Regions from separate parts of the Homo sapiens genome. Here region 2 is reported to be linked to region 1. Evidence: microRNA targets listed by miRTarBase, many of them from high-throughput screens and not tested one by one. Region 1 holds a microRNA gene; the other region holds the end of a gene's coding sequence.

Region 1 (4,451 bases):
ATGCCTTTCTAGCACAGGTATTAAAACTTTAGGACAATTTATTAAAGAAATAGAAAATATGATCTCTGTGTTAGTTTCCTGTGATTGCTATAAGAAGTTACCACAAGTCTGGTAGTTTATAACAACAAAAATGTATTCTCTTGCAATCCTGGAGGCCAGGAGACAGAAATCAAGGTGTGGAGGAGGCAGAGCCATGCTCCCTCTGAGGCTCGGGGGAGGAGCCTTCCTGGCCTCTTCCAGCTTCCCACAGCTGGCATCATTCCTGAGCTGGGCCATGTCTCTCCAATGCCTGCTCTCTGTTTACAGGGCCTTGTCCCCTGTGCAGGTCTGGGTCAAAACTCCCTCTGCTTCTCTTTTATAGGATACATGGTATTTAGGGCCCTGGATGACCCAGGACATGCTCCTCCTCTCAAGGTCCCTCACTCGATCACATCTTTTGCAATACAGGTGATATTCACAGGTTCCAGATTAGACATGGGTGTATCTGTGGGAGTCATGATCAGCCTACCATAACTTCCAAGCAATTGGGAAGAAGAAAAAGAATACAGAAAATTGAGTATTTCTAATAGAAGTTAGGAAAGGAGAGAGAAAATGGAAGTCCAGAAGCCAGGACAAAAAAATAAGTGGTGGAAATAAATTTTCCTAGATCCAGAGAAAACAGTAACCATGAATGTACTGAACAGAGACTGTCAGATTGGACACAAAAGCAAAGTCTTGTGTCAGACGTTGCTTACAGAGGTCACAGTGAAGTATAGAAAGGTAGAAGGCAAGAGGGTGTGGAAAGCCGTGGAGTGTAAATACGGATGGGATGAAAGTTGGTGTGGCCGGGCCAATCCCCAACTTAGACTTAAAGACACAGAGAATCCCTGGGAATGGAGACAGCGACTCCCAGATGATGAAGCAGCAGAGAGATCCTCCAAGGGTGAGTGACCTAGAGCACTTTACCAGCTTTGTAAAGGAAAAGGCATTTGCCTGGAGGCTGCAGGGCCCAGTCCAGCCTAGCTCCAGGACAGCTCCAACCCATCCTCCCATGGGTGGGGTGTCCCTGGTCCAGGCTAGGGACGGTCCAGGGTGGGTTGGCAGGACCTGCTGTGATCGTGAAGTTGGGAACTGCCTAAACCATCTTCTCAGAGCCTGTGTGTCCAGAGGGAAAACCCAAGCACGTGGAATATGGTTTACAAGCCGTGGTTGCTGAGGACAAGGTTGGTAATGAAGGCGCAGGGAAGCCTGGGAGGGCAGAAATGCACAAGGAGGGGTGGGGCTGGAGCCCGGCTGGTCCTGGTATCCTGGGCTTGGGGGGACCCTGCTCCTTTCCCTGGGAGCCCTGAGGCCTCAACTGGATGACAGGAGGTGGATATGCTGGTCCCTGAGGCACAGGCAGTATGAACCTCTGCATGGAGCTGGGTCTCAGCAGAAGCCCACCCAAGCCTGGAGTTTCCCAGCCAGGGATGCACCTTTTTCATCCCAGCAGCCTCTGTCCCTCAGTCCTGAGCCCTCAGGGGCCCTCAGGGCATGAAAGCAGGAATCCCAAATCCACCTTCCAGAATTACACGGGCTGTTCTTGGTGGTCAGGTGGCCTCTCGGGGCCAGGGTCCTTTTTAAGACTGGAACCTCTCCAAGCTCACCAGCACTCTCAGTGCACGCACGCACGCACACACACACACACACACACACCAGGATTTTAAACTCAGTCCAACAAATCTCAGCATGCACCAGAACTATTTCAGCATTTTAAGAGCCTGTATTGATTTTGGAAGGAGCCAGGCAGCGTGTGAAGGCCATTCTGTCTGGGATCCTATGCTGAGTCTGGGGTCTCTGTATGAGGGATTATCCATGTGTGGGGAGCCTTCCCCCTTCAGAGCTTTCCAGCTTCCCTCTGATCACATGTCCTGAGCACACTATCCCAAACCTAACCCCAGCTGGGCTCTAGCAAGAGACGAGGTCCTGTCTTGCTGGGAAAGGGTCATCCTTCCCACCCGGAGGCCCCTGCTCTGCCCCAGTTTCCTGCCACAAAGCCCAGACAGTCCTGGGAACCTGGGCTGGTGAGTCCCTCCATCACCTTCAGAAACAGCCATGAGGAGCTGGCAGTGGGATGGCCTGGGGGTAGGAGCGTGGCTTCTGGAGCTAGACCACATGGGTTCAGATCCCAGCGGTGCCTCTAACTGGCCACAGGACCTTGGGCAGTCAGCTGACCCTGCCCAGTCCCAGCATCCTCATCTGGTCTTAGCTAACAGGGACACACCTGAGGAGGTGGTCTTCATGTCACTTCCACTGGGACCAGTTTTCAGAGCAGCTGCAGGGGTCATCAGTTAAGGCAGTACAGCCCACTTACAGAGGAGGCGGGTGGCTTGGGGTGTGAAGGACGTGCCCAGGTGACATGCTGCTGAGTGGCCCCAACCCCATCCAGGCACCAAGCCAGAGCCTGTCCCCAGGGACCCCAGGGCACATCAGCAGAAGCTGGAGGATGTGGGTCTCCTGGGCCTGGAATCTCAGAGCCCACATTGGTTAATTTCACACGTCCGCTTGACTGGCACACAGGGGGCCTGGATGTTTGGCCAGACATTATGCTGGGTGTGTGTCAGGGGGGCTCTGGGTGAGATGAACACTTGAATCCATGGACTGCAAAGCAGACAGCCTCCCAGTGTGGGTAGACCCATCCAACCTGTCGCAGACCTAAGCTGAACACAAAGGCCAAGTAGGAGATAATTCATTCTGCCTGGCTGCCTTAAGCTGGGAGCTTGGTCTTTTCCAGGCTTCAGACCTGAACCGAAGTACAGGCTCTTCATGCATGTCAAGCCCCTGGCCTTCAGACTGGGACAAACTCCATCAGCTCTCCTGGGGCTCCAGCTGGCCAGCAGCAGATCTGGGGACTTCTCAGACTCCACTATCTCATGAAGCAATTCCTTGCCATCCATCTCCTTTAATAAACACACACGCATCCTATCACTTCTGTTTCTCGGGAAAACCTTAACTAATGCAGAGCCCGAGAGTGGGGCATGGCTCAGGGCTGCTGCACCCAGGAAGCATCTGTGCTCCCTGTGCTTCCAGGCAGGGACCCTCATGGAGGGGTGGGATGGTCGTACTTCCTCAGCCAGCACTTAGGGGCCGTGAGGTCCATAGCCATGAGCTGAGGGAGTGACCCCACAGTTTATGTCACTGTGGAGAAAGGCTCCCTGAGCTGTGGATCCAGCCAGTGGGTTGTAAACCTGACTAAGACACTCAAGCTGCTGCGGCCGGGGGCATGCCACAAACCCCCAGTGAGCCTCAGTTTCCCCCTGTAGAACAGGGGTGTGAGAGCAGTCTCCTCAGGGTGTAAAGAGCCCAGCAAATGCCGGGCACAGCTCATACCAGATAAGCATTAGCTGGTGGCAGAAAAGCTGGAAGACAGACTGCTGACCTCCACAAAAGGATCAGATTTGTGCCAGTCCTGGCCATGGACAACAGGTCCCAGGCTTGACCTGTAGGTGAAGAGCCCAGAGCCCAGGACCACATGCCAAGTGGGAGGCTCCTGGCCCAGAACACCACACCTGCCTAGCAGATGTGTCTCCTGGAAGTGGGAAAGCAGGACTCTCCAGGGAGCCCTGGGGATACAGAGGATGCAGCCCGCGAGGCCCTGGCCTTGAAGCCTTAGTGTCTCTGCAGGCCCCACCTGTGATTGGCCCCTCCAGGGTCACCCAGGAGGGTAAGATGCCCAGGGCCTGCATCTGTGCTGTGGGACACAGCCTGGCTTCTGAGGCCCATGGAAACCTTTCTCGGGAGCTTCTCAGGACCCCAGCCAGGACATCTGTGCCTGTCCGTGACAGCTGCCCTAGAACTGGCCACAGGCCTATGGCTGCCTTGCACTGTCAGCCCCCAACGCCCGTCGTGTCATCAGCATGTCTCAGATGCCTTCAAGGGCTGCCCACTCCATGATCCTTGTCCACAGCCCCAGCATGTCCCCTAGCGTCAGAAGTGTCCCCGGATCCTGCAAGCCAACCACATAGGACGTCCACCTCTGAGCCCCTCTGTTCTCCTACCCTCCTGCTGATCACAGCCCTGCTGCCTGGCCTCATGGTCCAGTGCATCTTTCTCCCTGGAGCTGCCACAGTGCACCACCTGCCTGGCTATGCATTGGTGACCCCTAGGAGCTCCAGGGGGACCTTCACACAGGCCCAGGACAACTGGGGAGTCCTGCCTGCCCTCCTTTGAGTCCAGAAGCCCTGAGCCAGGCTCTCTTCAGAGGGGTGGAGGTCAGCAGGCACCAAGGCCTGCAGTCCCCAATTCTCCTCTCCCAGCTGATCTCTCTTGCCACACCCTGTGCTGGCCCATGCCCGTGAGTCCGCCTGGCCACCCAGACGGGAGCTGATGTCTCCAGGAGACATACGGGACTTGCCATAGCCCAGGCCAGGGCAGTCCCTGGGAGACACAGGGCCTGGGAGGCTGCTTCACCTGCGGGGCTCCTGGGCAGGTGC
Region 2 (4,225 bases), not on the chromosome of region 1:
GACATAATCAATGCTTGTCTTTAAAAGAAAAAAAATGGGAGCACCTCAAAGCCTCCCATTTTCAGCAGATTGATTTTCCTAAAACTTAGCCCTGGTTACATCAAAATATTGATCACAATTTAACAGTGATTCTTTAGCTGCTAATTTAAGTGTAGGTCTCACCTTGGCATTGAAAGCCTATGGCATTCCTTCTGTCTCCCTTTCTAGCCGTACCTGCTTTAACGCTGTATCAGCAATTCATTCCAGGCTGACTGCACACTATGCTGTTGCATACAAAGAGCTTGCAATTTCCCTGCCTCTTTTTTTTTCCAAACTGTTTTTCATTGCATAGAACACTTTGTCTCCCATCCTCATGAATCACAATCCTACCTATCTGCAGCATTTCTAGCATTCTCAAATATTGCTAGTAGAAGTGCAGATTTCTTGGAGGACAACTTGACAATATTTATTGGCAATGTTGAACCTTACCTGAGCCCCGTGTTTTTGGAAAGGAACTTTAAAAATCCTCCTTCCCTTTTGTTCTGGGAAATGGCTTGCTGCAAACAATCATGCTTTCTCTTATGACTTAAAACTTTCTTGTTTACATAGAACATGACCAGGCACAGACCCTCTAAATTCCCACTTTTTTTGTCTTATAAATAGCTGAAGTGTTCGTTGAACTGTTCGATCTGGGCAAAATGCAAACTAACTTGACTTGACCAAAGTTTAGTAAGGCTTTTCCCCTTTGCCCAGGTACCTAAACTTTGGCCCACTTTGGGCACTGGAACATGGAGCCATGTTAAAGTTAGAGGCCCCTCCTTCAGGGAACTGGCTGAACTCAGGAAAAAGTGTTCCCTAGTCAATGTCCCATCATACCTGTCACCCATCCCATCCCCTGCACCCAGTTCTTGTTTACTTCTCTCCATAAAAGAAAGCCTATTTGTGTTTGTCCTCTGAGCTACAGATCTCATAGATCTCAGAGCCTTTTCCCTATTGTCGTAGTCACCTTCCCCTTATGGCAATAATCCTTTTGAATAAAGTCCCTCCTTACATAAGTTTAAGCTATTTTTTTTTTTTAAATGTGACATTATTAACAGCTTTTAAAATGTCTAGGCTTTTTTACCAAATAATCTCACTTCTGGAAATTTAATCAAAGGAAATAATTATATGCACACATAGTTTATTTTTTTAAAAAGAGAATGCTCATGACATATTATTTGTAATAAAAAAAAAATAATATTTTCCAAAACAGGAAAGTTAAATAAATTATGCAGTCATTAAAATTATGTTTTCAAATTGTCCTTAGTAGCATTTGAGAGTGTTCTTAATATGTTTAGTCCAACCCATTAGAGCAAGATACAAAAATATATAAAAAGCTAATTTCAAATTATTTTATTACTATATTTAAAAATAAAAGCCATAAATACATGCAGGAAAAGACTGAAATAAACACTTTAAAATAGTAATATTATTTAATATTTGATGGGATGATTAATTTTATACTAAATATTTTGGGGAATTTTATAAATTTTCTATAGTGAGTTTTTTAAATAAAAATATATATATTTAAATATAACACTTCAAACATACCAAAGCAAGAAATTGTCTCTGGCCATCAGATATTATCTTTTCCACAAGCTTTTCTTATGCTCTCAGCTAGATACTGTTTCTCTCTCCTGTGAATTCCTAGCCCTTTGCCTTCTATGGCTGTAAAAACATTCTACTTTATGTTTTGTTATCCATGTACTTATTCCCTTTAGCCTATTGTCCTCTACTAGGTTGAAAAATTAGGGAAGGTAAGAATTGTACTTTAAATGCCATAGGAGTGCCTGGAATAGCACAGTATCTTGCATAAAGTAAATGTTTATGAATTCCAGCCACATCATTTGGAGTTTACATTTGCATATTCCATCCTCTGAATTATTTTTTTACATTTTAATTTTGACTTCAGCTTTTATTCATGATACAATCAATAAAATTCCTTCAATATAATCTCTTTGTTGTCCAAGGGTCAAATATAATGTTTTCTACACTGGAAAATTACCAAGGCTGATCATTATGTGAAACAGTTCTACACCATATTACATCCCTGAAGCAAGCAGAAACTCAAGTGCTTCGTTTGCAGAGTTGTTTTAAGATTTAGAATTTGCGGCTGGGTGCGGGGGCTCACGCCTGTAATCCCAGCACTTTGGAAGACCGAGGCAGGCAGATCACCTGAGGTCAGGAGTTCCAGACCGGCCTGGTCAACATGGTGAAACCCCATCTCTATTAGAAACATTAAAAATTAGCTGGTCCTGGTGGTGGGCGCCTGTAGTCCCAGCTACTCAGGAGGCTGAGGTAGGAGAGTCACTTGAACCCAGGAGGCGGAGGCTGCGGTGAGCTGAGATCATGCCACTGCACTCCAGCCTGGGCAGCAGCGTGAAACTGTCTCAAAAAAAAAAAAGATTTAGAATTTGCAAGTTTGTTTATTAGATGGTACATGTAAATTTCCTATGACACCTACCTACTGTTTCCTTTTTAGCATCTCAGTTTTGGGACACTTGTGAAATCAGTCTTCCAAGTATATTTCTGGTCATGGGTAAATTGTGAAGGCATTGGAAATTATCTGCACCTTTTCCCATCTCTGTTGTGAATCAATTTCCCACACACCTGGGACTTGTTGCCTACAACCAAACCTTGTGTGTCACTAAGGTGAAAACTTAGAATTTAAGCATGAACATTACAAAGACTTAAGGTATGTGATAAAAAACCTCTTTCCTTACAGGTATTCAGATTTTATTTGTGAGCCCTCTAAACATCAATGTCTTAAAGGGTTGACATTATAACAATGGAATAACTGAAAAGCGAAGTTTTCTGAAGTCATATGACCCTGCTGTGTGCCCAAGTCACCTATTCACATGGCTGTTCACATCATCTGCATGAAAATATTTTCACTTTCTGTTAACCATAGTGATTTACAATTCTATGACTATTAAAGTTTATTAAACACAAGTTTAGAAAGTATCTTTAACAAAGGTGTGTTTATTTCCATATATTGCTCATTACATTTTTCTTGCCACAGTTTTATCTAAAGCCAGGTCAAAATCTTTCTCTAAGGTATTTATTAATAGTGTATGTTCTTCAGATATAAAATCCCTCTGGTCAACATGCAACATTTGAATATCTATTGGCACTGTACCTCTATGAGATATTTATGACATTTGTTAATAGTGAACCTCAACCTCCTGACCCCACATCCGAAGTTGGGGGCGATGTGGGGGAACATACACAAAATTACAACCACATTACTGGTCAAGCACTTTATAGCTAAAATCTATTGACTTTAAAATAGCATTGTATGTGAATTCAGAGTTTTAATGTATTTTGTGGATCAAAAGGAAAGGGTCAAAGGCTAAGCTGAACACGGAGGGCACTAAATTAGCTAATAAGGCAGCTAGTGCCCCTGTTCTTGCCCCAGCCCTGTCATATCACTACATCCGATTCTCTCAAATGTTATAAAGAATAATGAACTTAAAACTTCAGGGGTTCCTGAAAACTGGTATTAAATTAAAAGCAGAGTAGTCAAAATTCTTTGCAAATGACTTCTGTGATAGAAAAAAATATTTCCAACCTGCGTCAGAGGAGAATTATCTTTTAGGTGCCAAGGAAAGAGTGATAAAGATGCTGAGTATATTAGTCAAGGTCATCTGAGAAGACTATTTTGTGGTTGATTCTTCTGAGCCCCTGAATTGTCCAACATTATTGGTGTACCTGTAGCGTGAACAACATTGCAACCAATAATTTTTTGAATACAGCAATGTAAAACCCTCAACTTTAATGTTCCTCAGATCGTAACAAATCAGCTCAGCTACAAGTCTTCCCCAAAGTGGAGCTATTCTAGTCATATATTTACTTAGTTTCAAAGAGCAGGAATCCTGCAAAGGTGGAGAAGCGTTGGTGGTCCCCATGGAGAGCGCCATTGCCCATTCGCAGCCAAACCTCATCCCCTTTGGCTAGCTTCAGCACAGCATGATTGCTGGATGTATCTGATTTGCCCTTCATTTCATAGCTGGAAAGAAAAAGAGGAACAAACTACTTAGTTTTTGCCATGAACAACCAGCTCTTCACCAAAGTCTGTGCTCCCCTTCTCTCCTTCCCACAGGTATAATCCTGCGGCTAAGTTCTCTAAACAGCCTGTGAGCAGAAATGACCTATGTACCACTTCTAAAGCTGGCTAGTAACACTCTCACAAAACCCCTCCCTGCTC

The links. The annotated mature microRNA hsa-miR-5100 reads UUCAGAUCCCAGCGGUGCCUCU and lies in region 1 at 2,139-2,160, shown strand. An mRNA with a match to its seed (bases 2 to 7 or 8) in the 3' UTR can be bound and repressed. Matches are read on the target gene's strand: a 7mer-m8 pairs with bases 2 to 8, a 7mer-A1 pairs with bases 2 to 7 and ends in A, and an 8mer does both.
Region 2: miRTarBase lists C1QTNF3 as a target of hsa-miR-5100. Seed matches in the 3' UTR shown: 7mer-m8 at 3,803-3,809, 7mer-A1 at 3,099-3,105 and 7mer-A1 at 2,747-2,753.

The regions. Positions count from the first base shown.
Region 1 is chr10:42,995,492-42,999,942 of GRCh38, forward strand. It overlaps MIR5100 (microRNA 5100), which reads left to right and starts at 2,072; the gene lies at 2,072-2,190. RefSeq lists an enhancer at 1,939-2,439.
Region 2 is chr5:34,016,716-34,020,940 of GRCh38, forward strand. It overlaps C1QTNF3 (C1q and TNF related 3), which reads right to left. Exons shown (of 6, transcript NM_181435.6): 6 at 1,143-4,027. The coding sequence ends at 3,868. It overlaps C1QTNF3-AMACR (C1QTNF3-AMACR readthrough (NMD candidate)), which reads right to left. Exons shown (of 9, transcript NR_037951.1): 6 at 3,872-4,027. Among named protein-coding and RNA genes, the nearest start is that of AMACR, 11 kb to the left of the region's middle.